Linked DNA regions of Homo sapiens: region 2 is linked to region 1. The links come from fine-mapping of genetic effects on gene expression. A gene starts in region 1. The other region holds a variant in brackets. All regions are shown on one strand. Distances are from middle to middle. Region 1 holds the start of TBCEL-TECTA (TBCEL-TECTA readthrough). Region 2 overlaps TBCEL-TECTA (TBCEL-TECTA readthrough).

The links. PIP is the estimated chance that this variant, and not a neighbour inherited with it, causes the effect.
Region 2: its variant is fine-mapped to the expression of TBCEL-TECTA in whole blood (INTERVAL, PIP 0.92).

The regions. Positions count from the first base shown.
Region 1 is chr11:121,014,730-121,031,394 of GRCh38, reverse strand. It overlaps TBCEL-TECTA (TBCEL-TECTA readthrough), which reads right to left and starts at 7,293. Exons shown (of 30, transcript NM_001378761.1): 1 at 7,104-7,293. It overlaps TBCEL (tubulin folding cofactor E like), which reads right to left and starts at 7,293. Exons shown (of 9, transcript NM_001363644.2): 1 at 7,104-7,293. RefSeq lists silencers at 7,040-7,309, 7,330-7,479.
Region 2 is chr11:121,101,579-121,118,243 of GRCh38, reverse strand. TBCEL-TECTA (TBCEL-TECTA readthrough) reads right to left here. Exons shown (of 30, transcript NM_001378761.1): 8 at 15,515-15,579; 9 at 12,280-12,413; 10 at 8,746-9,033; 11 at 5,035-5,172; 12 at 4,526-4,691. TECTA (tectorin alpha) reads right to left here. Exons shown (of 24, transcript NM_005422.4): 2 at 15,515-15,579; 3 at 12,280-12,413; 4 at 8,746-9,033; 5 at 5,035-5,172; 6 at 4,526-4,691. The coding sequence starts at 15,578. Among named protein-coding and RNA genes, the nearest start is that of TECTA, 8.7 kb to the right of the region's middle. The variant G/A (reference allele first, on the strand shown) is at 7,758.

The DNA.
Region 1 (16,665 bases):
ACCATTTTATGCAAATCAGCAAAACTTAAAAACTCTGACAATACCAAGTGTTGGAGAAAATGCAGAAGAACAGAAACTGGCAATGTAGCCAGTGGGAGTATCAACTGGTACAAACACCTTGGAAAATAATTTATTACTGTCTAGTAAAGTTGAAGACGCACATACTCTATGATCTAGCAATTCCACTTCTCAGTATAAACTCTACAGGAACTTGTAGTGTGCACCAGGAAATAAGTAAAAGAATGTCCGTAACAACAGCATTGCTTAAAACTGCAAAAATCCTGGGAGGATTGCGGTGGGGGGGAATGCAGTGTGGAGAAGCCCTTATATCTAAGAACAGGCAATTGGGTAAATTACAATATATTCATAAAATAAAATGTTACACAGCAATGGAAATTAACAATTGGTAGTTCATTATGCCTACTTCCTCATCAACATGAATGGCTTTTGAAAAACAGTGTTGATTTGTTCACACAGGGCAGAAAAATAAAACAATGCTGAATGGGTAAAAAAAAAAAAAAATCACAAGAATATATACAGTATAATTCCATTTATACAAAATTTTAAAACATGGAAATTAGCCATCTTATCATTTAAGGTTGCGTACATATATGGCAAAAACTGTAAAGAAAAGGCAGAGAAAAAAACACAAAATTCAGAATAGTGGTATCCTTAGTGGATAGTATGATCAGGAAGGCAAAAACAGAACTCTGAATTCCCTCTCCAAATCTGCTCCTCTTCCACTCATTCCCATCTTGGAAGTTATATTTGACTTTTCTCTTCTTCTCATACCCCTGTGTAACTAATCAGCAAGACCTATCAATACCACATCCAAAATATCCCAATTTTGCCCAATTTTGTCCATCTCTATTACTTTATTCTTGTTCAAGCCATCATCAACTTCTCACCAGGACCTCTGCATTAGCCTCCGCCCTGGTCCCTCTTGACTCTTATACAAATCATTCTCCACAAAGCAGCCAAGTGATCTTTTCAAAATTTAAGTCAAATCATGTCCTTTACACTCTCCAATGGCTCCCCTTCACATGCAGAATAAAATCCAATCTCTTCATCATGGTCGCCAAGGATTCATTTAATCTGATCACTGCTTACATCTCTAACCTCATTTCCTCCCACTCCTTTCCTGGCCCACTACTCAGCCTCCGTGGTTTTCTATTTCTCAGACTTGCCAAGCTGATTTCCCCCTACAGCCTTTGCATTTGCAGGATTGCCCTTTTCCTGTCTCTTGGCAGAGCTGCTTCATCTCAGTGTTTAAGTCTCAAATTTAAACACAAATGTCACCCTCTCAAAGAGGCTGCTTCTGACCACCCCATCAAAAATAGCACTACTGCCACCATCACTCATAGTCACTTCACCCTCTGTCATTCTTTATAGCACTTATCATAATCCGTTAGTTCAGTGTTTGTTCTCCAGCAGAAGATAGGTCCCACACAAGCAGGGATTTGTCAGTCCAGTTCAGTTTTGTGCAGAGCAGTGCCTGGCATATGATTAAAAAATATTCATTGGATAAATGGAAAAGTGAATTTCATTATCAATAGACATGAAGCAACACCTTCTGACAGTGAAATGAAAATGAAGCTCACCAATGGCAGAATGAGAAGAAAAATTTTGAAAATCACCGGAAACGCATTATTCCAAGAACAGTTTTAAATAACTTTTCACAATAGTACTTGTTATGGATCACATTCCTAAGAATGATTAGTGATTAATCAAAGTTTCACACAGTTTTAAGATCCTGAATTTGGGAAATGGGCTACCTGTTTAAATTTCATTTTTAGAAGAGCACTGTGATTAAAAGCATGGTCTTCAGTTAGTTCTGAGTTCACTTATGACTACTGTGTAATTTGAACAAGTTACTTACCTATCTCTATGCCTGCTTCCTCACTTGTAAAATGAAGCTATTAATAGCCATTTCACAGTTATTGTGAAGACTACATGAAATAAAGTTTTTGAAGCATCTAGTTAAGTACCTGGCATGAAGTAAGTGGTCAATAAACTAGTTATTATTGTGAAAGCTGAGACGTCCAGACAAATGGAGGAGCTGATATGAGTCAAATAAACAAACATCCTCCCCTTTTGGCAGAGGTGGGAATACATGCCAGGATTAAATCGTTTTTCCCTCCAAAAAGACAAATGTACACAAAGGTAATATATAAGAAGCATGGACAAAGGACTTTGAGAACACTGAGGGAGTGACTGTCTTCACTAAGGAGGTCAGTCACATGTAAAACTGAGTTTTACAAGACAGCAGCAGAAATGTACTAGATGAAAAGAAGGGGAAAGCATCTGCACAAACACAAATGAGTGAGAAATGCAAAATAAAGTGAGAAATGTAGTGTAGTTGGTGTAGAGTATAGAGTATATGTGGGAAGACGGCTAGAAAATAAAGAATTGGTAGGGCCAGATGGTAAGGGGCTAAGGTCCACCATTCAAAAGTTTGCACTTTATTCTTCCATCAGTGGGGAGATGAAGGGGAAAAATCCTAACATGCTAATTTGATACCAATTCTTCTAAAGAAGGCGGAAACACCTTTATGACTTTAAACACCACATAGGGCCACAATCTGTTAATGTAAAATAGAAAATATTTTAAGCCTTAGTTCTTAAAACCATATGAGCAATTTGTTTGTTAACAATGACTGATCTGGAACCTCTCTTCATGATGTTTTATTATTACTGCGGTGACCACTGTTGTGCTAGGCATCATCATGACAGCAGATAAAATCTATTGTAAGTTTATTATGTGTTGTGTACTGTGTTGTTTTATATGTATTATCTCACTTAGTTATCACAACACTTTTATAAGGGGTACTATTATCCCATTTTGCAGATCAGAAAACTGAAGCAGAGAGGTTACGGGCCCAGAGCTAGTGACAGAGCCAGGACTCAAATCTAGGCTGACTTCAAGGCCCTAAAATTAAACCAGTTTGCTGAATTATGATATTGCTCAGTTCATTAACATCACTTGCTGAAAAGTTATTTGAGTACCTACTGTAATTTAAAGCATCAGGCTAGGTCAGTGACTTTTAACTTTTACTGTATGGAAGAATCATCCAGACAGCTTGATAAAATGCAGATTCCTAGATTCCACCAGAGATTCTGATTCAGTAAGTCTAGGTCAGAATTCAGGGATCTGCTTTATTTTATTTTATTTTATTTATTTATTTATTTTTTTAAACAGTGCCTCACTCTTCTTGCCCAGGCTGGAGTGCAATGGTGTAATCATAGCTCACTGAAGCCTCAACCTCTGAGGCTCGTGATCCTCTGGCCTCAGCCTCTCAAGTAGCTGGGACTACAGGCATATACCACTATGCCTGGCTAATTTTTTAATTTTTCATAGAGATGGGTCTCCCTACGTTGCCCAGGTTGGCTTTGACTCCTGGATTCAAGCGATCCTCCTACCTCGGCCTCCCAAAGTGCTGGGATTACAGGTGTGAGCCACAATGCCTTGCCGGATCTGCATTTTTAACCATACGTTCAGTCAATTCTGATCTACTTGGTCTATGAACTACGCCCTGGTAGACCCTGTGCTAGATGTCCTAGTTTTTCATGGATATTTGAGCCTCCTGTTCACCACGCATTTATAATCTAAAAGGGATAAAAATAAGGTGCACAAATAATACAAAGCAATATAGCAAAGGCAGTACAGACAACATAAGCAACAAAGACTTCAAAGAAGAGGGGTCATCTGAAATGAAATGAGAGTGAGTAGGATTTCATGAAGAAAGGGAACATTTTATATGCAGACTTTCAGGGATAATTTTACACACAAAGGAAGGTACATGAGCAGAGGCCTTGGCAGGTAGAGGAACTGCATTTAGGAGTGTAATGATGATGCCAGAAAAAAAGTAGAGGAAGTCTGTAGAAGGCCCTAAATATCAAGCTAAACACCATGGGCTTTATTCAGTGCCTGTACTGGAAAGCAGCTAATGGTTTTTGAGGAGGGAAATGAAATAATCATAGCAATATCCTTTGGAAGAGTTCTCTCATGAAGCTATGCAAGCAAAAGACAATGGGAACAGTCCAGTTATTACCATTCTAATTCCAAAGAAGTAAGTCAGAATGGGTAGCATGAAAAAGGGAGGAATAGTAAATCTCAATAACTAATCACGTGTAGGAGAAAGGCAACAATCGCAAATAAGGATTCCTTCACCCTTTAAGCCCAAATTGTATCACTATCAGTTTCACATTACTTCTTATACAGCTAACCAGGCCCAAAATATATAAAGAGTTCACTTATTTAAAACACAGCCCAGGACTAAGTAAACTGGTCTCTAAGTAGCCAACATACATGTCACACAGTTCACACACTAAGAAAAGGAAAAAAAAGTATTATATAACAAATATAAATATCTGATTTTCAAAACCATAGTAGTTTGGAGGCAAAAATTAGAAGGAGAAAAGAGCCTGCTACAGGTGGACAGGCTTAAGAGTCTAAGGATCAGAGAAGAAACAAAAACTATTAAAAAGCACACACAATCACTCAGGGTCACTTCTCCGTAACTGTTTATTGACAAGTACATATGATTCCCAGAAAAATGAAATAAATAAGAATCTTCCTTAATGTTCCAGGCACCTACAAAACAAAATCTTCTTTAAACATTCATTAAAGCTAAATATTTTAAAACAAATATTTCCCTGATTAAGAGGTCATTTTTAAAGGATGGCTGATATATGCCAGCATAACGCCTCTATCAGTACCTAATAAATAATTAAAGGCAAGAAAGATTTATAACACACAAAGTTCAAAGATGATAGAATGTTTTCGTAAAGCATTTGATCAAGAATGTGGCCCCACTGATGAAGTTTTAACTTGGGTACTTCTGTCCTGATGACCGTGTCTTTGAATTCTATGTTACAAATAATACGAACTCATCCTCAAAAAAAGAAACGCTATTAAACTGGTCTTAAATACATACCCTGTGTACCTACTGAAATTAGACAACATCCTTTGACACTCAATGTCCTGCAGCAATAGGCTATGTAACAACTTTTCAAAGGACTTTAACATTACAACATTTAACATTACATGAAGGACTCTCACTTTGTTCACCAACAGTCATTAATGTTTATTATGAATTAATACTATTTTTCTAAGGACCCCACCTAAAATTTTTGTAAGGGGAATTAAGATGTTAACTGATTGAAAGTTATACTTAGGTTTATGATTAAGTTTATATACCAAAGCCGTAGACTGTAAGGCTTTTAAATATGTCTATGGCTTTGGTATATATTTTATCGTGTATTTTTCATATATTTTTCATCATGTAGCAAAAAGTATATCATAATAATTACTGCAGTAAGAAGAATTTGGGATGTTTTTAAATAGCAGAAAAGAAAATCAGTGTATCTTCACAACATTGGAACAGTAAAATAAAATTTCTTTAACTATGTTGTGATAAAGCAACTAAGTGGAACTAGGCCTCTCATATTTCTCAGACACAGCAAAGGATAAAGGAAACTAAAACACACACGCATACAAAAAATTTCATCAATCAAATGATCAGGCAACATCAAGATATTAAAGATCAAGATTATGGTCCTTCAGAAAACACAGGTCAAATATGCTACGTGGTATAAACATCTAAACCGAAGCAATCAATTGCACCTAGCTGCCCTCCTCCCTCTCCCCCGGCCAAAATAAAATAAAAAAAAAAAAAATCCATCTCCTTAGAATCATCCCTGCTCTTTAGAAGCTTACAGAATGAGGACACTGATTGACACCAAATAAATGTGCTTCAGAAACAGTGTTTTTCAAACTGCAAGTTGTGACCCACAAATCATCAATTTAGTAAATGTCAGCCAGCATTTTTTTTAATGCAAGAGGGTGGAATATAATAGAAATTAGCAGAACATATCACATATAATAAGGGTAAATACTGCTTTGTGAAAGTTTCCCTTCATACCTACGTATGTACTAGATCTGAATGTAAGACATACTTATTACTGTGGGGCATAATTTTTTTTTTTTTAAGTTTGAAAGCTACCACCCTAGAGATCTGGGTCTAATGCATCTCAGGACCCAAAGAGTGAATGTTTTCCTTAGTCCTCAGCACCTATTCATACTCTTTGCTCAAGATAGACTACTGGAAACGTAAGAGCTCCACAGCAGCATGACATGAACAAGGGACAAGCCCCAGCTCAGCCTGTATTTGGACTTGAAAGCATTACCAACTTCTCTCAACAGCCCTAGGCGTTGCCTACAAGCTCTTTGTAGCCTAGCAACCTTCACAGTAGAGCTCCTCCTTTCTCCACTGACTGTATACAGTTCAACACTTCCAACCAACTTTCCTCAACTACAACTTCTGGAATCACTGTGTCCCAAGAAAAGACTATTAAATCTCCTCTCTTCACCAATTCCCAGAATGTCTTCCTACTAGCGGACCTAGAACTCAACAGAGAAGCTCCACACAGATCCTTACTTCCCCCAAGATCCCACGACAAGGCACCCGCCTGTCAGTCCAACACCCTCGTTCTCAGTCTCCCAACCTTGGGGCAAATCTTTTCTCCCAAAAGCCCTTATTCAATTACCACATCCACATCCTTTTATCAGCCCCTGGTAAGAGCAGGCCTAATGTCCCAAGGGCCTAGACATGCCCGTCCTTCCCCCAGCAAACCTCCCTGGGGACATGTCCTCTTTTCTGGGATTCAGTAGTTCAGAGACAAGTTTCCTATTTCCCCAGCAGTCCCAGACACGTCTCCCTCTTCTAACAGCTGGGAGGCATCTACCCATCCCCCACGCTGGGGCAAGGTGAGACGCCTAGATTCTCCCAGGAACCCGGGCAGGCTCCCCAACACGCCCTCCTCCAACCCGGGACCAGTCCCCCAGCCCAGCCCAGCCCAGCCCAGCCCAAGACCCTCCCAGCTCCGCCATAGCCCAGGCCAGGCAGGCCCCATCCTCCCTCTAGCCCCAGGGCAGGTCTCCCATCCCCACAGCTGCTCGAGACAGGCCCCATGTGGCTTTCACCCTTCCCCGAGTGTCCTATCCCAGCACCCTGCAGGAGCGACCCTCCGCGCCTCGGCTCCAGAGGGGAACGCCTCGGGCCTCGAGAGCCCGGCAGAGCCAGCGGGCCCGGCTCCACTCACCCCTCAGCCCGGGAGGCGGGGGAGCTACTGCGGCGGCTCCTCTGGCTGCGCCTCTCCTCCCCCCTCCCGGCCACCGCTGTCGCCGCCGCTCAGCCTCGGGCCTGGTCCCGGCCAGCCCCGGCCCGGCGCCGCTTCACCTAGTCCCCCACTCTGGCCGCCGGAGCCCAGTGTCCTGCATTGACCCGGAAGCAGCTTTCCCGGCCCAACAACAACACGTGACCCCGCCGCACGTGTCACGTCCGCTGCGTGAATGGGAGGGGGCGCCGGAGGAGCGGGTCCTCCCCAACCGCGCTGGGGTTGCCATGGCGACGGGGATGGCTGCACTGGCTTAGGCTTTACCACAAACACCTCATCTGCTCTTTCTCGTGCCCACCCATTGAGTGGACAATCCCCAGGGGCAGAACAGGAGTACACATTGTCATATCAGAGGACAATAGGGGCTGCAGAAAAGAGCATTGGGCTGAACCTTTCCAGAAACACTTGGAATCTTGGCCTGGCTCTGTTACTGATTTGCTGTGTGACCTTGACCAAGTCTCTTCCTATCTCTGGCTTCAGTGTCCTCAACCATAAAATGAGGGAACTATACTAGATGAGCCCTCAGGGTATGGTGGCAGTCTGACCTTTCTTCTGTGCCCCCTTCACAAGTGGCATCCCGAGCTTCCAACACCAATGTAGTAACAGCAGCTTTCATTTATTGAGCACTTTCTAGGTACAGGCACTGCGCATGTGCTATTTTTAATTTTTACAGCCCTCCAAAGAGATGGTATTTATAGAATTGAAAACAAGTTCAGAGTGCTTAAGTGATCTGCCCAAGACCACCCAGTTAGTAAATGTGACCAGGGTGAGATTTGAATCCAGGTCAGGCTGGCACCAGGGTCCATGCACTTCACTTTATGCCACGCTATTGCTCCAACTCCATGCATAGTATTACTATATCTGACTGTTGAGCTGTGATTGCTTATGTACTCCTTCGTCCATTTCTTTTGCAGAAACATACATGGAATAGGCGTGGTGCTGGCTCAACCCCAAGTGAATTCAGCCTTGTATGGGAATGTCCCCTGAAGTGCTAGGAGATGAAGATGTCTTTGTGCATAAAGTGTATGTGCTTCTGTGTGGTGTGTGCCAGAAAAGACGTGGGGGATGTAATGTGCATGTGCATGTCTGCATTGGTTTCTAGAAGGGGGAAACAAAATTATTTAGGACAGACCCAATAGCACCTTACCATCATCAGTTCCTGGAGACTTATTTTTGTCATTCTGTTTTGTTTTCTCATATCCCATAGGTAGGGTTAGACAGGGTAGAGAGGAAAAAAAAAAGCCAGAAGGTCATGGGTAAAGAAACTGCTCTGAGTATAAAGGGGATGATTAGCCAAGAATTGTATCTTAGGTTGCTCAGGAAGGGGCTTTACTCCCCCTTCCACAGAGAACAGAGTGCCTTTCTTGGCAATTTAAGAATTACTGGCTTTCAGAGCACTGAGATCATTAGCATTGTGTCCGGAATTGGTGGGTTCTTGGTCTCACTGACTTCAAGAATGAAGCCGCGGACCCTCGCGGTGAATGCTACAGCTCTTAAGGTGGCGCGTCTGGAGTTTCTTCCTTCTGATGTTCGGATGCGTCCGGAGTTTCTTCCTTCTGGTGGGTTAGTGGTCTCGCTGGCTCCGGAGTGAAGCTGCAGACCTTCGCGGTGAGTGTTACAGCTCATAAAAGCAGTGTGGACCCAAAGAGTGAGCAGTACTAAGATTTATTGAAAAGAGCAAAAGAACAAAGCTTCCACAGTGTGGAAAGGGACCCGAGCGGGTTGCCACTGCTGGCTCGGGCAGCCTGCTTTTATTCTCTTATCTGGCCCCACCCGCATCCTGCTGATTGGTAGAGCCGAGTGGTCTGTTTTGACAGGGCGCTGATTGGTGCATTTACAATCCCTGAGCTAGACAAAAGGTTCTCCACCTCCCCACCAGATTAGCTAGATACAGAGTGTCCACACAAAGGTTCTCCAAGTCCCCACCAGAGTAGCTAGATACAGAGTGTCCATTGGTGCATTCACAAATCCTGAGCTAGACACAGGGTGCTGATTGGTGTGTTTGCAAACCTTGAGCTAGATACAGAGTGCCGATTGGTGTATTTACAATCCCTGAGCTAGACATAAAAGTTGTACACGTCCCTACCAGACTCAAGAGCCCAACTGGCTTCACCCAGTGGATCCCGCACCGGGGCTGCAGGTGGAGCTGCCTGCCAGTCCCGCGCCGTGCGCCCGCACTCCTCAGCCCTTGGGTGGTGGAAGTGACTGGGCGCCGTGGAGCAGGGGGCGGCGCTCATCGGGGAGGCTCGGGTCGCACGGGAGCCCATGGAGGGGGTGGGAGGCTCAGGCACGGCGGGCTGCAGGTCCCGAGCCCTGCCCCGCGGGAAGGCAGCTAAGGCCCGGTGAGAACTCGAGCGCAGCGCCGGTGGGCTGGCACTGCCGGGGGACCCAGTACACCCTCTGCAGCCGCTGGCCCGGGTGCTAAGCCCCTCATTGCCAGGGGCCGGCAGGGTCGGCCGGCTGCTCCGAGTGCGCGGCCCGCCAAGCCCACGCCCACCCGGAACTCCAGCTGGCCCGCAAGCGCCGCGTGCAGCCCCAGTTCCAGCTCGCGCCTCTCCCTCCACACCTCCCTGCAAGCTGAGGGAGCCGGCTCCGGCCTTGGCCAGCCCAGAAAGGGGCTCCCACAGTGCAGCGGTGGGCTGAAGGGCTCCTCAAGTGCCGCCAAAGTGGGAGCCCAGGCAGAGGAGGCGCCAAGAGCGAGCGAGGGCTGTGAGGACTGCCAGCACGCTGTCACCACTGCCAGCACGCTGTCACCTCTCAGCATGGCCACAGTCAAAAGTAGCCTCAGTGGTGAGGACCATGAGAAGAGCGGAGTAAAATGTACAAGGTGGATGCTGCATGGATACTCTGTTGACAGACTTACTTCTGAGCTCAGGTACCTTTGGGGACACCCAGAAACGCTTAAGAGGCTAGTTGCCCTGTGAGCAACTAGGAAAAAAGCAAGAAATATGGGTCATTACTGTTAACAAATACTATGTGCAACGTATATAAATACATATATGAGTATTGTATGTGGCTGGGTGTGGTCGATTATACACTTCTTTGTATCTCTGAGATATCCTCCAGTCATTTTTCTGCTTCTTTTCCCATCTTTCCCCTTATAGATGAAACTTCTAAAGACAAGATCAATGTCTCTACCCACCTCCCATCTTTCTCCCCAAGACAGCCAGAATTATCTTTCTAAAACTTACATCTGTAATCTCAGCACTTTGGGAGGCTAAGGCAGATGGATCAAGAGGTCAGGAGTTTGAGACCAGCCTGGACAATATGGTGAAAGCCCGTCTCTACTAAAAATGCAAAAATTAGCTGGGTGTGGTGGTGCAAGCCTGTAATCCCAGCTACTCGGGAGGCTGAGGCAGGAGAATCGCTTGAACCCAGGAGGCGGAGGTTGCAGTGAGCCGAGGTTGTGCCACTGCACTCCAGCCTGGGTGACAGAGCGAGACTCTGTATCAAAAAAACAAACAAACAAACAAACAAAAACACATATGTGATTGTGTTATTCTCTGGAACTTAAAACCCTTTCAGGATTCTCTGTGGGTCTCAAGATAACGTCTATTATTATTAATGTACTTCTCAAAATTTTTCCAGATCTGGACCCTGCTGACTTTTCCAGCCTCATTTATCACTGCTATTTGCTCTTCTGTATCTGCTCTGTTCAATCTGGTCGCCACTAGCCACATGTGGCTATTTAAATTGAAATTAATTAAAATTAAGTTAAATTCGAGTTTCATTTCCTCAGTCACTTGACACTAGTTACATTTCAAGTGCTCAATCACCATATGTGGCTAGTGGCTATCATATTGGACCGGGCAGATACAGAATATTTTCATCATCACAGAAAGTTCTATTGAACTGCACTGCTCTATACTCACAAACCTTCCTGTATGATATATTCTATAGGAATTCCCTCCACAAAGCCATTTACTTCAAATGTTCTTCTTTCACTTCCTTGAGACAGAAAATTATACATAATAGCTTATTTCCTTGTTGTTTCTTTGGCGAGCATGTAAGCCTCAATGAAGGCAGGAGTAGGTCTATCATGTTCACTATTGATTCCGCATTATTTCTAAAGGGCTATCATATAGGAAAAGGAGAGAATGGACGTTGAACTAAACTGAGAGAAAATAACAGGCAGATTTGTGGCCATTTTATTAGATATTATTATTATTAATTATCATTTTAGACAGGGGCTCTCTCTGTCGCCCAGGCTGGAGTGCACTGGCACAATCATAGCTCACTGCAGTCTCAAACTCCTGGGCTAAAGTGATCCCTGCTTCTCAAGTCTCCCAAGTAGCTGTGACTACAGGTTTGTGCCACCATGCCTCCCTAACTTTTTTTTTCTTTCTAGAGATGGGATGTCACCATGTTGCCCAGGCTGGTCTTGAGCTCCTGGCCTCAAGCGATCCTTCCACCTTGACCTTCCAAAGTGCTGGGATTACAGGCATGAGTCACCAAGCCCAGCCAAAAAAATATTCATAATTCGATCACTTTGACTTACAAAGGGCAATTTCATACAGTGCAACCTAATAATAAGGAAGAACTTCGGGAGAATTGGAGCTGCTTTAGTCAGTTCTAGTTAATTCTCTGCCATTGGAATAGGTTGAGCAAAGGCAGAATCTGTTAAAACAATATGTGAACAATTCCTGGATCAGAAGATTCGAAGTCTTCTAAGATTCTCAGTCTATGTTTCTCCTACTGGATCTTTAATTCAGAGTCGAATATGCCATAACAAAAATCATAGCTACTTTCTAAGGTTTTACTATGCCAGACGCTGCTTGAGACATTTTATGTAGATTACTGTTTTTCCCTCAGTCTTCACAATGATCTTATGAAGTATGCTTAATGCTATCAGATTTACCAACTAAGACTGAGGTTGTCATACACCCAGCAACATACAACTAGTAAAAGGCAGAGTCCATATTCACATTAGGTCAGTCTGAAATCAGCATTTTAGTTCACAATGACCCTGTATTATGAGATATAGTTCTGTCATGAAGTTTCAGCCAGATATTTATTTGCATGTCATTTTAATTTAACAATTGCTTATTTTGTAAGAGTTTTGTTCCTTGTACTTAGCTAGGTGGTTTGGGGAAAACAAAGACAAATAAGGCATGGTCTCTACAATGTAATTGGAATGGTAACAGTGATACATGGCAACTTACGGGATGTTATTTTTTAAAAGGAGATAAGGGAATTATCTTCACAGCTGAAGGCTCTTCCCAAGTAGACAAGAGGATAAGGACATAATTATATGAGAATTTAATGTGAACAACAGCAGTGCACAGATGGGAACACAGGGGAAGGGAAAAGCAGCTGCTTCACTTGAAAGAATAATGGCTGGTTTGGTGACTGTGTCTTTAATACCATTCCTGGTTTTTCCACTAACCAGCTCTGCCTCTTAGACTGTTTCTGCCTGGAGCATTATCTACCAAATAACAGAGATTGGATAAACTATCATGGCAAACCACCTGAAATTATATATATTGTGTATATTACACATGTATGCATTTTTAAAAGGAAGTGTCCCAGATTTCATCAGATGCATGCACACACACACACACACACACACAAATTCTAAGTCAAAAAAATGTAGAATGGATGACCCCTTTAAATTTTGCAATTCTCAGATTCTATATTTTATTTTTGTCAACATTATTGACATATTTGTCAGGAGCTGTACTGTCATGCCAAGCCTAGTGACCAAGCAAAGGACAAAGATTTTTAAAATTTTAAACTGGGGAGTCATACCTAGAATTATTTAGAAAGAATCAGTATTTCCTTACTGGGCAGAATATGGTCTTTAAAAAACAACTCTTAATTTGTTTTTTTGCAATTTGCAATAGACCAGCCACAAAAAGCTTAATTTTCAAGAAGACCTTACATTAATTAAAATCACTTGCAACAAATTGCTAGAAGTCTCACTAACCTCTCATAATTTTTTTATTGTGAAGAATAACATACAGAAAAGTGCACATAGTGTACATAAATGCACAGCTCAATGAGTTCTCACAGGTAAGCATGTAACAACCTCCCATTTAAGTCATAGAACATTGCCAATTTCCCAAAGACTTCCCCCAGTACCTACACTCACAATTCTCCCCAAGTTAATTAACTGCTATTCTGACTTCTAATAGTGTAGCTTATTTTTCCCCATTTTTAAATAAATGAAATCAAACGAGATGATTTCTTTCACTTAATATTATGAGAGTCATCTATTTTGGTCCATGTAGCTATAGTTTATTCACTTTTGTTGCTACATGTATCTTATATTATAGTAACACTCTATTTATTTATCCATTCCACCACTGGACATTTGTGTTGTCTCCAGGTTTTGGTTATTATGCATAACACTGCTATGAACATTCTTGTGCTTGTCATTTAGGGCACATATAAACATTTCTGTTGGGAATATACCCAAGAGTAAAATTGGTAAATCCTAGCTTTAGATCAGCGTTGTCCAAAAGAAATATAGTACAAGTCAAGTCAGATATGTAGTTTAACTTTTTCTAGTGGCCACATTAAAAATATTTTTTAAAGTTAAATTAATATTAATCATGTATTTTATTAACCCAGTATATCCAAAATGTTATTTAGATATTTTGTTATTGTTTTCATATTAAATTCTCAAAATTCCATGTATAATCTACACTTAGAGCAATTTAGTCTAGCCACATTTCAAATGTTCCAGAACCAAAGGTGATTACTAACTACCATATTACCATATCTGCTATTATTTGGTTTCATTTACTGTTATTTTTCTAATTTTCTTATTTTCTAAAAAGTCTTTAAAGCGGTACATCTCTAAGTACAGCATTAGTTGTGAGTCACAGTTTTGATATGTACATTTTCATTATCATTCCACTTTAAACATTTTCTGATTTTTTTTAATTCATTGATGTGATGGATAACATTAATTGAGTTTTTAGTATTGAATCAGGCTTGCAAACCTGAAATATATCCCATTTGGTGTAGTATATAATTCTTTCTGTACATTGTTGGATTTGATTTTCTAATATTTTGTTGATGACTTTTGCATATATGTTCATGAGAGATATTGCTCTATGGTTTTCTTTTCTTGTAATGTCCTTGTGTTGTTTTGGTATTAGGGTAATGCTGGCCTCATAAAATGAGGTAGAAAGTACTCACCTGTTTCTATTGTCTTAAAAGATTATAGATAATTGGTGTAATTTCTTCCTTAAACATTTGGTGGAATTCATCAATGGACCCATGCTGGCTTAGGTGCTTTATGTTTTAGAAGGATATTAATTATTGATTTAATTTGTTTAAGAGATATAGGCCTATGCAGATTGTCTTCTTCTTGTATGAGCTTTGGTTGATTGTGTCTTTCAAGAAATCGTTCCATTTTTTTCTAGCTTATCAAATTTATGGGCACAGAGTTGTTCATAATATTCATTTACTATCCTTTTCATGTCTTTGGGATCTGTAGTGATGTTTCTCTTTCATTTCTGATATTAGTAATTTGTGTCTTCTCTCTTTTTGTCTTAGCCTGGCTAGAGGCTTATTGATTTTATTAATCTTTTCAAAGAACCATCTTTTGAGTTTATTGATTTATCTCTACCGATTTGTTTCAGATTTCATTGATTTCTGCTCTAATTTTTATTTATTTCTTTAGTTTGGATTTAACTTGCCCTTATTTTTCTAGTTCCCTAATATGAAAGCTTAGATTATTGATTTTATATGTTTCTTACTTTCTAATATATGCATTCAAGTTTCTAAATTTTTCTCTAGGCACTACTTTTGCTACACCCTACAAATTTGGACGTTGTATTTTCATTTTCATTTAGTTCAAAATATTTTCACTTGTGATTTCTTCTTTGGCTCATGAATTAGTTAGAAATATAGTTAATTCCTATAATTTTATGTTACTTCAACATCCATTTAAATATAAATTTAGCTTTCTCATACCAGATATCAGAAGCAGGACATAGTCACCTTTGACACACTTTCCAGTTGTCCACTTCCTTACAGTTCCTTAATGCAGTGTATCCAGTTATCTGCCTTATACAACCACCTCCCTATGGAATGGTTAGATACAACCTACTTCACTCACCCCTCTGATCCCCTTAACCCCCAAGGACTGCGCAGATATGCCACAGTAGCCCCTCTCAGTCACAGTGTGACCCCATGGAACTCTTGCCAACTTGCTTTAAACCCATCAGTTAGAACGCCTTGTGGGAAAACCTGCTTGGGTAATGACCCCAATAAAGACCATGGCCCACAGGTCCCTCTCTCTCTCTCTCTAGCTCCCCATCCACCAGTTGAGCATATATGTCCCAGATGGCTTTCTCCTTCCTGTTGGTTGAGGATACATTCTTTGTGAATGTTTAAAATAATTTGTGTTTTACAGTTGTTAAGTTCAGTGTTCTATATAAGCAATTAGATCACTTCTGTTAATTATGTGGTTCAATTTATATCCTTATTGATATTTTGTTATAAATTGATTTTGTAACAATTGTTACAAGCAGATTGATTACTTGTATCAGTTACTGAGAGAGGTGTGTTAAAATGTCTTACTAAGTCTATGGATGAATCTTTTTTTCCTTATAGTTCTGATAGCTTTTGATTTATGTTTTGGTGGTATAATACTAAAAACTGTATTAAATTAAAATTGTATTCTCTGTCTGGTAAATTGAACTTCCTCTCATTATGTATATCCCACTTATCTCCAGTAATATTTTAACAATAGCCTTAAAGACTATTTTGCCTAATATTAATCAGCTTTCTTGTGGTAAATCTTCTATCCTTTTATTTCTATAACCTTATATTTTAGATGTATCTGTCATAAATAGCATAGTGTTATTGGTTTGTTGCTGTTGTTGTTTTTTCTTTTCTTTTTTTTTTTTTTTTTTGAGATGGAGTCTCTGTCGCCAGGCTGGAGGGCAGTGGCGTGATCTCGGCTCACTGCAACCTTCGCCTCCTGAGTTCAAGTGATTCTTCTGCTTTAGCCTCCCAAGTAGCTGGGATCACAGGTGCATGCTGCCAAGCCCAGCTAATTTTTGTATTTTTAGTAGAGACAGGGTTTCACCATTTCCACCAGGATGGTCTTGATCTCTTGACCTTGTGATCTGCCCGCCTTGGCCTCCCAAAGTGCTGGGATTACAGGCATGAGCCACTGCGCCTAGCCCGTGTTATTGGATTTTAATCCAGCCTATTATTTGTCTGTTAATTTGAGAATTTTATCTATTTATATTTAATGTAAATATTGAGGCCTGGCGCAGTGGCTTACGCCTGTAATCCCAGCACTTTGGGAGGCCGAGGCGGGCGGATCATGAGGTCAGGAGATCCAGACCATCCTGGCTAACACGGAGAAACCCCGTCTCTACTAAAAATACAAAAAATTAGCCAGGCGTAGTGGCGGCCACCTGTAGTCCCAGCTACTTGGGAGGCTGAGGCAGGAGAGTGGCCTGAACCCGGGAGGCGGAGCTTGCAGTGAGCTGAGATCACGCCACGGCACTCTAGCCTGGGC
Region 2 (16,665 bases), 87 kb before region 1:
GGCTAAATGCTTTACTTCCATTATACCATTTAATCCACGTAAGAACCCTGTTAGGGAGGTATGGTCACCCTCATTTGACAAATGAGGAAACTGAGCCTTAAGAGAAGTGAAGTAATTCATCCAGGATCACTCAGCAGCTCCGTGGTAAAGCCAGGATTCCGAGAGGAGTCTGTCTGAATCCCGTCTAAGCTCTTGGTATTATTATCTCCATGGCTGGTGAGCAAACTCACATTCAAGGAAAACCACGTTATCATGAATCCATGGAAAAGGGTATGACACTTGGAGTCATTTCCTGCCTTTCCTTCCGAAGGAAGACCCAGTTTACCCAGGTTACTCGGCAACACTCACTGTTTGCTTGCTAATTTGTTCATTCATTCAACAGACATTTGTTGGGGGCCCAGTATGTGCAGGAAAAGGTCAATAGCACTAATCAGGAGTCAGATGCATGAGTATAAATCCCAAACTCCCTGGGAAGGTTCTGGAAAGCACTGACCACTTTCTTGCACATTTAAAGGCTCATGAATCCTGCAGATGCTGCTTAGGCAGGATTTACACCTACACAAATTGTCTTCTTTCCCACTCTAGGGCCCTGTCCAAGTCCAGGACTTCTCTCTGTCTATGCACCGGACAGACCTTCTTGACAAATTCTAGGTCAGGAAGAGAATGAGGAAAGGGGAGGGGAATGGTTTAAAGGGATGTGATAATTTTAAAAACACTATTATTTCTTTGGTAGACATGCAGTCTTTAAAATCATTTCTGTAAATAAATGACCTCCCCACCAAAAAACTTTGAAATTTTCTGGTTGCTAACATCAACCTTTAATTGAAATAGAAACACGTCTGGGCTGGGGACTGTGATCTAGTCCTTGCTGGGGGATTGGGGTCAAGAGAACTGGGCAGCAGTCACAAATCTGCAATCCATTTCCAAGACTACTCATTCAACTTCCACCTGTCTGTTTTCCTAACCTGTAAAATGTGGATACTGCTGTTTCTCATCCCTGTCTCACAGAGAACAGCGATGTTATAAAAAAGTTGACACAGGTTGATAGAAGTAGAAGCACTTGTAAAATGAGAATGTCTGAAAAGGCAAGTATCAAAGACACAGCATTAAGAAATGTAAATAACATCTCAAGTTTTTATAAAACTGACTATCGAGTGAATAGCACAAGGCTGCAAGGTTAACCCAAGTTGAGGGTGCGGGTGTATCAGTAACAGTCTTGACTCTATCTGCCCAACAGGAACAATGATGTTTCAACAGGCAATTCCATTTTATACCTGTTGAGAATAGGGTTGAAAAATGAGAGAATAGATTTAGTCACATTCCCAATAAGTCATGTGCATCAGCCCTGAAAACAGGTCCTAATCCTCAGCACTCCTTGGCACTAGTTCAGGGCTGTATGTATTGTGACAGCCTCCACTCAGCATCATTTCCAGGCCCTGCTTTTTCAGGCTTTCAATAAGTGAGAGGAAAATGCCTTTGAATAGAGGAGGTTTGGACCAAAAGGTAGACTCTTTGAGATAATTTTGTTTGTGGAATGATGATATAATAAACCAGCTCTACAGAACACTTCCCCTGCTATACCCCAGGCCAAATCCCAGTCTCATTAGATTGATATATGTCCGGAGGCACATAAAAATGCATAGCAGTCTATATAAGGATATTGAAATCATCCCGTATATGAAACCCAAACCTATAACTCAGGAGGAAAAGAATGAAGTCAAAGTGGAGACTGTGTACACAGCTGGCATCTGACCAACTCCGCAGCTCTGCAAGCCAGTGTTTTCCGTTATCACAGCATTTCATTCCCAGGACCCAGGTGAGAGGCTGTCACTGGGCACTCATGTTGTATGGCCATAGCCAGTCATCTCTGTGATGCCTGGACAAAGGGAAGAGGTATTTGGGTAAGAGTCTGCAACTTCTGAGGCCCCTGGTCCAGGCTATACAGGGGAGGGAGATAATGTAGTATTGAGTTGGTATCTCTCACAGACCTTAAGTGATGCCGTATTTACACTCTGTAGGGGAGGAGGGTACAATCTCAAATCCTAATGAGCTCTGGAACTAGATTATTTCCTATCCAGTTAATACCAGCTTAGCTGCAAAACATTTATTTGTTATTTTGAACATGGGGGACTTTACAGAGTCCACAGAGGCAAGGGTCCAGGCAGGCCATCTTCACACATGACCTACCTTAGAGCGAAGGCACTAATCACAGCACAGGGAAAGGGGCAGAGGGCACAGGTGTGTCAGACCATGTGAATGTGGCTTTTCTGTATATTAAACACATTGAGCCCAGGTGCAGTGGCTCACACCTTTAATCCCAGTGCTTTGGAAGGCTGAGATGGGAGGATGGCTTGAGACCAGGAGTTTGAGACCAGCCTGGGCAACATACTGAGACCCTATCTCTACAAAAAATAAAAATTAGCTGACATGGTTGTGGTTCTTGTAGTCCCAGCTACTCAGGAGACTGAGGTGAGAGGATTACTTGAGCCCAGGAGTTTGGAGTTCAAAGTTACAGTGAGCTATGACCACGACACTGTTCTCTAGCCAGTCTGGGTGACAGAGAGAGACCCTGTCTCCTAAACAAAAAACAACAACAACAACAACAAATTGAATCTGAGCCAAGAAAGAACCCCGAGGCCTCCCAGGGCTGCCAAGACAAGCAGTCCAAGCTTCTATCTGAGGGGATAAAGGCACCTCCTCATTCCTATCCAAAACTTCCTTAGAGGTCTGGAAACACTTTTCCCATGGTCTTCCTCTGTGTTTCCACAGTACCCTACACAAGTGTCTACCATAATATGTCTTATGCTGTGTCATCATTGTTCCCATGGCTCTGTCTCCTCTACCATAGTAATGTCATGGTAGCTAGAGCAGCTTTATCTCCAGCACCTCACAGAGTGGCTGGCATTTCAATGGGGCTCTTAAAATGCTTTTCAGAAAGATGCAATGGCTTGCTAAATGGCTGGATGACTTGATGGATGGGTTGGTGGATGGGTGAGTAGGTGGATGGATGGGTGGGTGAATGGGTGGATGGATAAATGGATGGATGGGTGAATGGGTGGGTGGGTAGGTGGATGGATGGGTGGGTGAATGGGTGGATGGATAAATGGATGGATGGGTAGGTGGATGAGTGGGTGAATGGGTGGATGGATAAATGGATGGGTGGGTGAATGGGTGGGTGGGTAGGTGGATGGATAGGTTGGTGAATGGGTGGACGGATGAATGGATGGATGGGTAGGTGGATGAGTGGGTGAATGGGTGGATGGATAAATGGATGGGTGGGTGAATGGGTGGGTGGGTAGGTGGATGGATAGGTTGGTGAATGGGTGGACGGATGAATGGATGGATGGGTAGGTGGATGAGTGGGTGAATGGGTAGATGGATAAATAGATGGGTGGGTGAATGGGTGGGTGGGTAGGTGGATGGATGGGTGGGTGGATGGGTGGGTGGGTAGGTGGATGGGTGAGTGAATGGGTGGGTGGGTAGGTGGATGGATGGGTGGGTGAATGGGTGGATGGATAAATGGATGGGTGGGTGAATGGGTGGGTGGCTAGGTGGATGGATGGGTGGGTGGATGGGTGGGTGGGTAGGTGGATGGATGGGTGGGTGGATGGGTGGGTGGGTAGGTGGATGGATGGGTGGGTGGATGGGTGGGTGGGTGGGTGGGTAGCTGGATAGATGGGTGGGTGGATGGACTAATGAACAGAGGCATTATTTCCTTCTTCTAATTTCTGTAGCTTCTACTCCTGGAAGTAGAAATATTATCAGAAATTCTGTTTTCTAAATATTTTTGGACACAAAAAAGCAGGAATTCATAAACCAGGATGTTTCTCTGAAAGTCCATGGTGAGTTTGCACATCTAAAGGGGTTCGATAGTTCAGAAAAGGCTCCAAACTTTGGGTGCCCAATGTGAAGGACATCCACCCAGGTTCAACTACAGCTTACTCACAGATACCCAAAGTCAGCTTTGATTCTCCTCAAATTCCTGCACGTTTTGCTGATGCTGGGAAGATTTTAGGAGAACTTTTGTTTCTTTTTTTTCTAATCATACTAGGAAGTACTGATTTACCCTCATAGGAACTTGGCAATACTCCAACTGCACCCATTCCTGTAGATCTACAAAGTGCAGAAGACAGAGCGAGAATAAGGATGAGAAGAAAAACATAAAGGGCGGGGGGAGGAAATGGCAACAACAACAACAAAAATAATGTTAAACAGGAGGGCTGCCTTCTGTCCCTCTGGCTCAGAAATCACTCAAGATCTTGGTCCATTTCGGAGTTGTTCAGAACGGATAACTGTGTGCACACTCCAGAAAAGGACTTCCAAAGCCACAAGGTAGTGAATGCAGTGTTTTAGCTTCTGATGTGATGAATGCACATGCTAAAATTACCTTGATCTCCATTACCCAGCGGAGAGATGTCAAAAGAGTAAGGCATCAGGAATGAGTCCGCCCCCGTGGCTTAAAAGCTTGCCTGTCAATCTACACTAAACAAACCCTGCCTTGCCACAGACAGAGGAAAAGCTTTACCCCTTGAGGTGCAGCCATTGGCTGGGTCAATTTCCTTTCCATCAACTTTAAATGCCCAGCGGCCTGGAACATTGACGTTTGTGGTCTCCTGGATATTCACGATCTCGGGGGTTCTTGACCCCGGGAGGCTGAAGAAATTGGTGAGGTTTCCACCATTAAATCCTGCCTGCAGCACAAAAGGAAGACAAGATTTTTGAGTACAAAAATTCCCCATGGGTTAACTGGCCCAACTACCTTATTTTTAAAATCCAGCACCTCTAAAATCAAGAGCCGTCTTTTCCTGGAGTCACTGGGGCCAGCATTCTAGGTGAGAAAGGACTGCCTAGTTCATTTCATAGCCGAGTCAGGGTGCCAAACATGGGCAGGACTAGCCTCGTAGTCCACCTGCGAGATCAGACCTGCGTCTCTAGTTAAAAGCTGGTGGCAGGATTCCCTCCAGGATGCTGAGCCACAGAAGCAGAGAGTGCAGCGACGGAAACACGCGGGGGATGAAGTGGAGAGCCACCTACCTGTGCCATCACTCCACCAAGACCTGTCAGGGGGTCGCCGCCACTCGCCGTCCCCGTGGTCCAGTTGATTTCGTAATAATTGAAGAGGGTGAATGTATAGGAGCCATCGGACACTAGGACGGCCTGGAAGGTGTTCACCTACAGGATGGGAATGCGCAGTCTCATGACTTGCACTCCCCAGGAGGTCCTGGCCCCAAGGAGGTCCTCCCTTCACCCTGCGCCCTCCCCACCCACAGGCAGCTCAGAGCTGCTCTGCAGCCAGGCCCTCCAGCTCTGACTCCTCTCTGAATTTGTTCTCGCCTCCGTTGGGAAAAGCAAGACATGTGGGACTGTGCTTCTAAAAGAGAAATTGCCTGAGATAAACCCAGAGTCTGACTCAGCGCCCACTTATATCTCTGACTTCTACCAGACAGAAAATTCAGAGGCCCGGCTAAGCGTGTGATAATATGAAAGCACCTATAGATGGCAGCATGAGAATAAACTACAGGAAAGACTCGGCCGGGGACCAGGATGCAACCACCGGTTCCCCTTGCAGAGCGGGTTGGAAGAGGGAGCAGATACCAGTCCGTGTGATTAAAGTGGCCATGCGGATTGCGCTCTCTCTCTTCCCGGAAAACAACATTAATCTTGATGAGATGTCTCCCCTTTTAAAAATGGAAGTGGGAAAGTGATTTTTAAAAAGCACTTTCTGGGGAGAAGTTACTCCTCTAATTGAGCATTTGTGCATCACTTTATTTCTGAAAATCGTTAACATTCATCTGTACCCCAGACCAACGCTAAGACGGGTGATCGTATTGGCCCACGCCTATCTTATAGTTAAGAAAACTAGGGACTGCGGGAAATGAGTTACTAGAAATTTCACAGTGACCCAGCAACAGAAAACGAGATTTGCGCCAGAGTTCCCAGTCCATCTCTCAGAGCACTGCCATTCCATGCTGTCTTCATTTTAAACTTTTTAGGATAGAGATGTTGCTTAAATTCATATGAAACTTGTAAATGGTTTTCAGAAATAAGCTGTAGCAAACCCTGTCCTTTATATTTTCCTCTTGCTAATCCTCACCCCTTGTCACATGTTTTCAAAAAATTTAATAGAAATAGAGTTAAAAGGAGAGGCTGCATTGACCTTTTTCTATTCAAACCTAGCACTTTTCCCAGCTGCCTGACACTCTGTCTGATGCAGAGGAAGACACAAATCCTTATCCTGTGTAATCAAACTGGGGTAGAGGATCTTGGAAGCCCCAAATCTCCCCATTCTAGATGATCCCAGAAAGGGAGGCAAGCTATGAGTAAGAACAGCCCTTTTTGTAAAGAACTTTTCTTCCCATGCTCTGTGCTGGCCACGGCTGATGGCGTTTGTGATAGACTTGCTCAGGTAAACGCCTTCAGTCTCTGGCCCCATTCAACAGAAGAGGACAGTGGGACACAGAGATGAGTGAGCAGTAGGCTCAAGATTGCTGTAAGGTCACCAGCAGGCTCTTGTTCAAGGGACAGGGGCAAAGTCAAAGTCACACAAGGACTAAAGCTAGAGCCTCCTTCAGACCAAGATTCTCCTTCAGAAGGGAATTCCTTCTCCCACAGTGAAGCTGGAAATATCTTTGGTCCAAGCAGATCTCAAGAGCAATCCATTTCCAACCCCTGAAGTCACCTCTAAACCAACCAGCCATACCAGTGACACCCCAGAGGCTGACTGCCACCCGCACGCACCTCAGCTCACTCTTACACATTCTCACACTACAGAATTCTTCAACGTTCATTCCAAGACTCTTCTGGATAAAAAAATCTTTTTTGCTTCTGAGGACTTCAGCAATACCCGCAGGAGGCAGCTGAAGAAAGAAGAGTCTGGGATTTGGAGTTGGAAGACTTTGGTTTGAACCCTGCTCTGTCTCCTAGGAGATTTGAATCCTATTCTTTTTCTTGCCACTTGAACGAGATACTTGGCCTCTCCCGGCCTGTTCCCTTCCCTTGAAATTGGAGACAGTACTTGTCCGGGAACATTTTGGGGAGGGTTAAATGATATGCAAAAATAGCCTTCAGCACCAGACACATAGTAAACCCTCAGTAAATATTAGTTTTCCTTCCTTGAAGTAAACATGTCCCTTTTCCTTCCCTTCTGTTGGCGTCGCATGAGAATTTTTGCCTTTGAAAGACCTCTCAAGCCCAGTGTTTAGCTGGCCTGATCATATGTGTTTCTATACAGAAGGGGAAACATGGAATAACGGGATGAAAGAGGTGGGGCCAATTTCAAAGATGGGGATGGATGGACACTTTTGCAGCTCCAGAGAACTACATCATCTTTTTTTACTCCAAGGAGCTCAAAGCACTTAGATGTTACTTCATTCATCCTCACAGAAAGAGTTCTCACCTAGTTCAGAAATATACTCCAAAGTATAAGCCAGAAAGTATCTAAATTATCTTGCCATTTTTATTGCCAATGGAAGTTTTTTTGAAAAACTGGTGGTCAGCATTTGATAGGCATTTCTTCCCCCAACCCCATGACACTAAAATTTATCAATTGCTGGCATCCCACATTCTAACGCTGTAAGATATGAGGCTTAAAGGACATAAAACATCACCCGAGGAGTCGTTAGCGATCTATAACGTGACAGAGGGAAATGTGTGCTTCTTTAGAGGTTATTTCTAGCCAATGCATCGCTGTTTAAACTTGTGTCTTTCTGTTCTACAGAACCTCTTAGCGATAAAGTGCTTCTTGATGCTCTGGCTAG[G/A]AGGTGCTAAAACATAATGTGTTCGTGGTGTCGCAGCTGTGAACTGCAAGCCCAGCACTTTTTCACCTCTCTCTAACTCAGTCGTTTTTGTTCCACCCCTCCACAATTGACTCGTTGCCAAGGAAATTGGAAAACAGATGGAATTGGAAATAATCCTAAGTAAGTGGAGGGCAGATTTTTTGAGTGTCTTTGCTTACTAGAAATTATACAGTTGAAGATGTGTCTACTACTTCAAAACTCTCCACTGGCAAAGTCACCCAAACAAGCTGCAGGCTTTTGTGAAAACTGCATTCTGTCCCTTTATGTAGAAAGTTGATTATCTCTGCAATAATGGCAGTGATAATCTTTCTTATCTGACTTTTATTTGACTGCTTATTTGGGATTTCAGAGCAGATGTTGAAACTTTATTCATGAAATGCTTTCACTGCCCACTCTAATTAACATCAAATATGAATAATTTCAGCCCTGGTAACAATAAAAAAGATGTCACAACATAATAAAATGAGCCAGATCATTTGGGCCCAAACTTGGAACGCTATTTTTCTCTTCCAACCAAATTTTACTGGGGAGAGAGGGAGGAAATCAGGGATGGAGAGAGGCACTTGTACCTCGGGCAAGAGAAAAGGACCTTTGGGTCCCTAGATGGGTCCCTAAGCATGTGGCCTGGAATGGGTCTCAGTGCCTCAAGCACTCTCCTGCAAAACAGCAATGTCACTTACAGCAGGAAAGTTTTTGAGGGTTTTTTTTTAGGCATTAGTGATGATTTGTGATAGGGGTGACATATCTTCTGAAATATTACAGCTGACTGGGCTGGTTAACTGTGATAGTTCCCTCTGTTTCCTGCAAAGTGGGTAGCAAAACTCATTAGTTTAACTCAAGGGAACTGACACTCCTTAGCTCTAATAATTAGACTCCTTCGTGGTAGCGAAGATGGACAAGAATTAGATGTCAGGTTATGAAGTGGAAAGCAGAAAATTTGAATTATTACAGGTGTGGTGCTGCTGCCTCCATAAAACGTGACTTCCTCCCATGTCACAATGAAAACCCAAGTGGCAGAGAAGGTTGCCATGTCTTTGAAGTACTTCCTGATGTCCTTGGTGGCTCTTTTCAAGATGGCAGGCTCCATGGTCTCTCTGTAATAGATCTCGCCTCGAATTCCATTGTGCACATCTGCCCAAAATGGGGCGACGAAGGCTCTCCCATCTGTCAGGGGAAAGGATTCTGGCGTGAACTGGCTCACTAGCACATTGAAGGAAACAACTCCGTTGTTATTGACCTACGAAAATAAGAGAGGTTTTGCACAGTGGATCTGAAACCATAACAACTTCAGAGTCACAAACCAAGACAGACATTCGCCTAACTGTATGAATGAAAACAACTTTTAAACTACTGAATTAGAACCCCCAAACACCGGGTTCCATTGCTCAGACTAAGAGGTTCGTTTACTTCCAGACAAACTCATTGGTTTTCTTTCACATTAGATTTGTAACCAGCTTCATTTCTGATTAATAATCAGTCTCATTTTCATGTTCCCTATCCTGTCTCTATTACACTTATCAAATGCTCCTGAGTTGTGCTTCTGTGTGTGTGTATGTGTGTACTACAGGTGAGATGTGCATGTGTGTGTACTGAAGGGTGTGTGTGTACTGGGGTGAGGTGCGTGAGTGTGTGTTTGTGTACTGAGGTGAGGAGTATGGGTGTGTGTGTTCTGGTGATGGTGTGTGTGTGTGTACTGGGGTGAGGTGTGTAAGTGTGTGTGTACTGGAGTGGGGGTATGTGTGTGTGTATTGGGGTGAGGTGTGTGTGTATACTGGAGCATGTGTGTGTACTGGAGTGGGCTTTGTGTGTGTATTCTGGGGTGGGGAGTGTGTGTGTATACGGGGGATGTGGTGTGTGTGTATACTGGGATGTGTGTGTGTGTGTGTACTGGGGGTGGTGTGTATGTGTGTGTGTATATTGGAGTGTGTGTGTACTGGGGTGGGCAGTGTGTGCATACTGGAGTGGGTGTGTATATGTGTATGTACTAGGGGTGGGGTGTGTGTGCTTACTGAGGTGGGATGTATATGTTTGTGTACTGGGCATGGTGTGTATGTGTGTGTATACTGGGGTTGGTGTGTACATGTGTGTGTACTGAGGGTGGTGTGTGTGTATGTATATTGAGGTGTGATGTGTGTGTACTGGGAGTGGTGTGTGTGTGTATGTGTGTACTGGGGGTGGCATGCGTGTATGTGCTGGGCCAGACAGGGAGTAACATGGGTACTAAAGACAGATTCAGGGTCACTAATACAAAATAAGCAGGAAAAATAAATAAGCATGGAAGTAAAGTTAAATTTGAAAATTGAGGTGCCCTATGTTAGGGCTTGCTTCCTATTTTATGACAAAAGAGGAGTGTCAGAGAAAGATAAATCAAATACTCCTTCATCCAACTCCAGTCTCTGATGAAAATATTCTGCTTTGGGTGAGACATTTAAAAGACCTCCACTGATGTCACAACCACTCCTGCACTCAGAGCAAGGACAAGGTTAAGACCTACAGATGCCCAGTTCCATTCCAGCTCATGTGGTGTGATAGTGTCCTGGTACAATCGCTGCATAAAAATGGAGGCATGACTACTTTACACTGTTTATGTAAATGACTATCTTATGGTGATTTCTTCATGATTTGTAAATGGCTTAGTAAACCAATTAAATAGGAAACCTTACTGGAAATCACAAGCCAAGATATACCCTCAGTTTACAAGGGACCTGTAAACAATTCAGCCTCTGCGTGAATCTGCAGCTCTGTACGTTGGTAGATAAACTGATTTAACCCTGTGGCTGACACGGCTTCAGCAGCAGAGGTACCTGTAATGGGAACTGCAATTCTTGGATATAGAAAACCTGGAGATAATTTTCCTATACATTCCAATCATATGTTAAGTTTCTGTTAACCAGTAACATTATGGACATTAACAGTGGCCCAGATCCCAGAGGCAAGTTATCAAGGCCTGGACCAAGGGTAGGTCTACGTGTTTGGAAGCAAGGCTTTGGGTTTGGAAGAGACATTAAGAGCCTATTGTCTTCCAGTAATTGGGAACATCCTAGAGGCTTGAAGAAAACTGCACTACTCAAAGTGTTGGAAACGCAAGGAACAATTTACCCTCAAATAAATCTGCCTCAAGCTAAGGAACCTCCTGTTGCAAGGGCAAGAAAAAATTCTTCAGACTCCATATCACACAGTGCAATAGAGAAGAAAAACTAGCTTAACTGGGCTTCCAGCACGGAAGTCCTCACTGCCTTATTGCCAAAATCAGGTCAACACAACCCAAAACTTAAAACCAGCTATTACAAAGACAGACTAGGGAGGCCCTGCCGTGAATAGAGTATAAAAGGCGTTTCAGGATGTCAGAATGAAGTGTTTGCTAGGGAACAACAGGTGTAATTAAAACACACAGACTGGCAGAGGAAGCTGGTGATGACTCACGTGTGTCTTGATTATATCCTATGGTTGAGATCAGTGGTTCTCAAACTTTTGTGGGCATCAGAACCACTTGGAGGACTCATTAAAACACAGATTACTGGCTCCTCCTCCCAGAGTTTCTGACTCAGTAGGTGTGGGGTGGGACCTGAGAAATGACATTGCTAATGAGTGCCTGTGTGACGCTGCTTCTGCAGGTTCAGGGACCACCGTTAGGTAATGGAATAGTGAACTCTTTTCTAGCGGGAATCATCCCGGAGCCATAAATCAAAAGTTGGGGAAGAGAGAGGTCCCAGACGTAGAGATGGCCAGAGGTGGACATGCTTAGGGTTGCATTCTTCCTCCAGGGGTGTGGTATAATCCCTCACCCAGTTCTTTAAGGCCAACAATAAAGCCAGGCTCGGCTGCTCTGAATCTTCCTCTTCATGTGCCACAGTTTCGCTAGCAGCAAACCCAATGATCCAAAAAACCAAAAACAAAAACCTGAGAACACAGGTGCCTAGGAGAGCTCTGATCACAAATGGGACCATTTCTTAGTGTGGGTTGGGCGATGAGACCCTCTGGCCTATCTACAGACCCATATTGAGGGTGGCCAATTCTGCAAACAACTTTGATATAATAGTTGATTACCCCCCTACTGTGTTCCGACTCTGCTTCAAATTGGTAGGAAGCCCAAGAACAGCAGATGCCTAAACTTTTCACACCCCCAGAAGGGAAAGAAAAATGATATTGCTCCTACTGTGGTTCATTGTATCTTTTTATCTCGTTGAGTAGCAGAAATAACATTCATGGCATTGGGGCTTCTGCTTCACTTCTATGTTTAATCACTGACAAAAGCAATTTATTGCCCTGTATACTCCTCCACTATGAACATTAGCCATTAAATATACCTTTGACTTTCTTATTCATAAAACCTATCAGCTCATGAAATCTCAGAACTTGTCGTTTTGGCTGCCAATAAATCCTCCCTTCCCAGAGCTCTGGAAGAGGATACTTAAAATGCTTTTCTTAATGACAAACAAAAGGGAGGGCCAGAGAACAACAGATGGGCTGCTTCTCCACTTACATAGACAGTGCGGTAAGGAACGCCAAAGAAGAAAACTGGGATGGCCAACTTAATCTCAGATGAGCTTCCATCATCTACTTTAGGGGTTTTGGTGTCATTCTGCCAAAATGGATACATGAGCTCCCTGGGCTGAGCTGTCAAGAGAGATGATGGTTAGATAGATGGCAGCTCCCTCTGCCGTTTGGCAATCTACATCTCTCCTACCTACTGAAGCCAGCTTCTTTCAGTAGGGCTTGCAAGCTGAATGCAAGTCATACTGCCCTGTCATTCATCCTAAACCTAGGCCATACACAGCGCAGTATCTTCTGCTCTGGGAAACGGGAAAATGGGAGTGACATTGTTTCTCCATAGGAGAAAGCACTTTGTGCATGTTCTTGCACTTTCATGCATCTTGGTGATATCTATGGCTACAGCTGGCTGGAAATTTGTGAAATTTCCCTGGAAACCTTGAGCTTTCTGGATACTGAGAGGCAGCCTCTAGGTCTGGCATGGCCACAGTTTTGAAGCTCCTGTTCTAGCTCAAGAATTCCACTATCGTGTGTTTTCCTGAAAGGAGTTCCCTCCCTCTTGCTGCACAATTGGAGAAAATCCCAGATCCCAGAAGGAAATAAACAACAGTGGGAACTGAGACAAAAGTGGGAGGAGAGGATTTGTAGCAATTGGCCCATGAATGACCTTGATTGAGGGCGGCCCTGCAAGAGGCTCTTTGCCCAACTCCTTTTTTACAAAAGACAGACATGAGATCCTCCGGGGTCAGAGGGTTGGGTCCTTGAGAACTCTTTGGAGAGAATGAATTGCAGGGCTCTGATTGGTCCTCCTGGTCACTGGAGAGCCATCACACAAACACACACTGCATCCCGCTGTGACAGGGTCACCTCCTCTCCTGGCTTGCTGCTCCCAGGTTTCCCGTCCATACTGTTGCAAGATGTGGCTCAGTTTTGTGGGAGAAATGAGACAAGTTCCCTAGGGTCTGCATCACTGAGGATCAAGTCCAATAGCATCTGTGAAATAATCTACATTTTGGGTGTTACTTTTCTTTGCCTCTGTCCTTTCTTCTCCTGAATGAATATAAGACAATAGGACACTATCGTTTTCTCCCTTTTTTCCTTTCTTTAAATTTCTCATTCTCGGGGGCAGGGGCAAGACCATGCTGGGCATCGGCCACACTTCTTGAGGTACCTGCTTGCTGCTATGAGATGCCGACACCCCCATTCTCATGTCGGGCCTTCTACTTGGGAAAGTCCCTGCTCTGTGCTGATGGAAGCAATAGGCTGGGGAGCAACCGGCCAAGGACTGTCTTTGCTCCTTTGGGAGGCTTTTGGTGAACAGACAACAGCTCATGTAAAAGAGAGGAGTGCAAAGCGGCCAGAAAGCAGGCCTGTTGCACCAGGCCAAGAGCCAGCTCTCCAGTTCTGAAGCAGGGAGCAAGAGGAGTTATGCCTCAACGGAGGGCTAATTTCTTTCCAGGGGCTGACATCCAAGGAGAGCAGCAAAACTAATCTGGTCATTCGTGTATATGCATCGTCCAAACCCCAGAAGTTGCTGAGAAGCAGCCCGAATTTGAGGCTGTAGGAGGCGCTGTGTCGGGTCATAGGCACTCTGGGCCCATGAGCTGTATTTAATGTCACAACCAGCAGGTGAAAAGGGGTCTTCTAACATTTCTATTTACATAATAGTAACAAATTAAAAATTCCTGGAAGTACTAATTAAAAAAAATCTTTATAATCTCTACTACAGTATTATACACAGGTACTTATTTCTGAAGTTAACAGTAACAAATTATGTCCTGGCATGGATTTATCCTTCATGGGGAACTTTTTAGGAGTCATGCCCAAGTATGAATGAGGGCTCAAATTCACACTGAATTATCATCATCTGTATGGAAAGATTAATTGGTATTTTGGGCTGCACTGATTGGCCAATCTGCCTAGGGAATGGAAAACCCATAATACCGCATGGAGGAGACGGAAAACCATGGCCAGGGAGAATGACCCTAACTTCCTCTTCTGCTGCAAAGGTGAGGCAGTTTGCAAGATTCTTCTCTTCGTGGGTGATCCTAATTAGTTCACAATTTTGAATAGGAAAGAACGGACTGTTAAATATTTTTAATTTTAAGAAGGATACAAACATTAAGAATATCTAATATGGTAAATAATACTTGTCAAATGAAAAAGAGGGTGCTAAACACAAGGGCGTAGGTTTAAACTACGGTAATTAACACTGCAGAAGCCATTATTATTTTTATATATATATATAAAACTGTTAGCAGCATGGCCTATCAATAACATCAGAGTTGCTAAAAGAAAGAATATCCCTATCCATGCTTGCCCTAAGCTGAGAATTTCACAATAAACATAGCTATGTTTCCAGGATTTTTTTTTTCCCACCAAATAAAATGTACTTTCTTGGAGCTGGGGTAGGAGGTTGAAGTCAAGGGCCCTCTTTCATTCCCGTGGGGTTTCACACTATGGTTTAACTGCTTAAATTCACCAATTCTGGAAAAATATTAGCACTGCACAGGGGCTTGACGTGTTCATCTCAGACTTGTACTCATGTGCCACTTGAACTAGACAAACTCGCAAGGTAAAGAAAGGTGCCTTAGAATTTTAGCCATAAAAAGTTAAAATCTACGTAGACCGCCCCGTCTTTGTCTAAAATCCAAAACAACAGTAGAAAAAAGACATATGTGGCCTTTCACTTACCCAGGGCAGTGCTACACAGAGAAAAAGAAGGAATCACTGAGGGGAAAAATTGTCTTATTTAAGTTTTAGATTTGAGGGCCACGTAAAAGGTCACTGATACACAAACCACTGACATCAATGCTATTGTAATTTCCTAGTTTTTGGCCGAAATAAGTAGATTCTTTAAAGTCTCCACCACAAATTAAATGCCTTAATGGAAATCAGTGATCAGACATGAAGTGCACATACCCCTATCTTATCTACTTTTAATGGAAATAATTTTGCGTAATTTTAAAGATCTACTCCACTAGCACAGGGCAAGCTGGTACATACAAATAGTATTTGAAGTTAAATAAGAAAAAAGTGGGAATATAAGTAAACCTCATTTAAAGTTAATGAATTTTACCCTTGATAATAGAATTTAATTACATTTTTCTCTTGTATCTGTAGACACACATGCACCTGCCCTTACAATTGTGGTTCCAATAAAAGTGTCTCTTTATCAATTCAAGAGCATGCTAACTGAGAGCTTTATGGAATTCTGTAGTACTCACCTTGGTGCTGTACAAGTGCGAAGATGAAAGAGACCCAAATTCTAAGGAATGATGAATAATTCATCCTGGAATTTTAAAAAGAAAATGAAAAAAAAATCCCCAGCTTGCCAGAGTAAACAGAACACCAGGTGTGTTTAGTGGCTAATCCCAAGACCATCAAAACCGTCATAGAACAAATTCACATAACAACATCAACAGTGCTGAGTCGGGCTGAAATCCCCTGAATGCTGGCAGGTCCTCCGAAGTTCAACACTTCATGAACAAATTAGATGCCCAGAAGAAGCCAGTCTGGAAGTGTAATGAGATCATTCAAACTGTCAAGTAATTATTTAGGATCAGTGAGAGTGGTATGCGTAAAGGAAAGGTATCCCCTCTGCATCAAATAAAGCGCTGAAAACTAGGACCCAACGCTAAAGATGCATGCAGGTCCCGGGTTGTGTCTCTGCAGCAGAAACCACACCCCAGTGAGACCTGGATTTCCTAATTTTCACTACAGCTTTCCATCAGAATCAAACAAAAGTTGGTTAAAACACAATGTGTTCTACAGCTAGGAGAATTTAGAGTCTGCCATCACCTTCTCCATAGAATGGAGCCGATCCATCATTTTGAAGTATTGACCAGATTCAGGGCCAGTCTACTCTGTTCACTGACTTCCCACAGTGAAATGAATGATAGAAACATTAGTAATAAAAAAGGACCAATCCAGAGTTGGAATCACAATAAAAATAGAATCCAGCGCACAAGCAACCAATTAGTTCCAGCAAGTTAATTAAAGAAGGAACACAGCAAAGAGAAACTTGTTTTCGTGTTAGTTTACAATCGGTTGCATGGTGGCTTTACCCTCCATCAGGAGCATGTTTTGTCTGTGTCACTCTGCAAAGCTGCGATGAGAACACGGACGCAAGCTCAAGTTAGACATCACCCAAGCGTGTGGCTAGACCATGAAGTCTCCTCCTGACAGTATTCTTAAAAAAGAAAAACCTTCCTCTTATCATTTGAAGTTATCACAATTCTTCAGCCAAACTTTCACGGGAAAGGCAATGAATTTATCCTGTGAGAGTTTTATTGCAAATCTTTAGTTGTCAAGTATATATGTTGTAATTTCAAGCACATATTAAATATTAGACAGTTTTGCTGGAAAGGGTACAAAG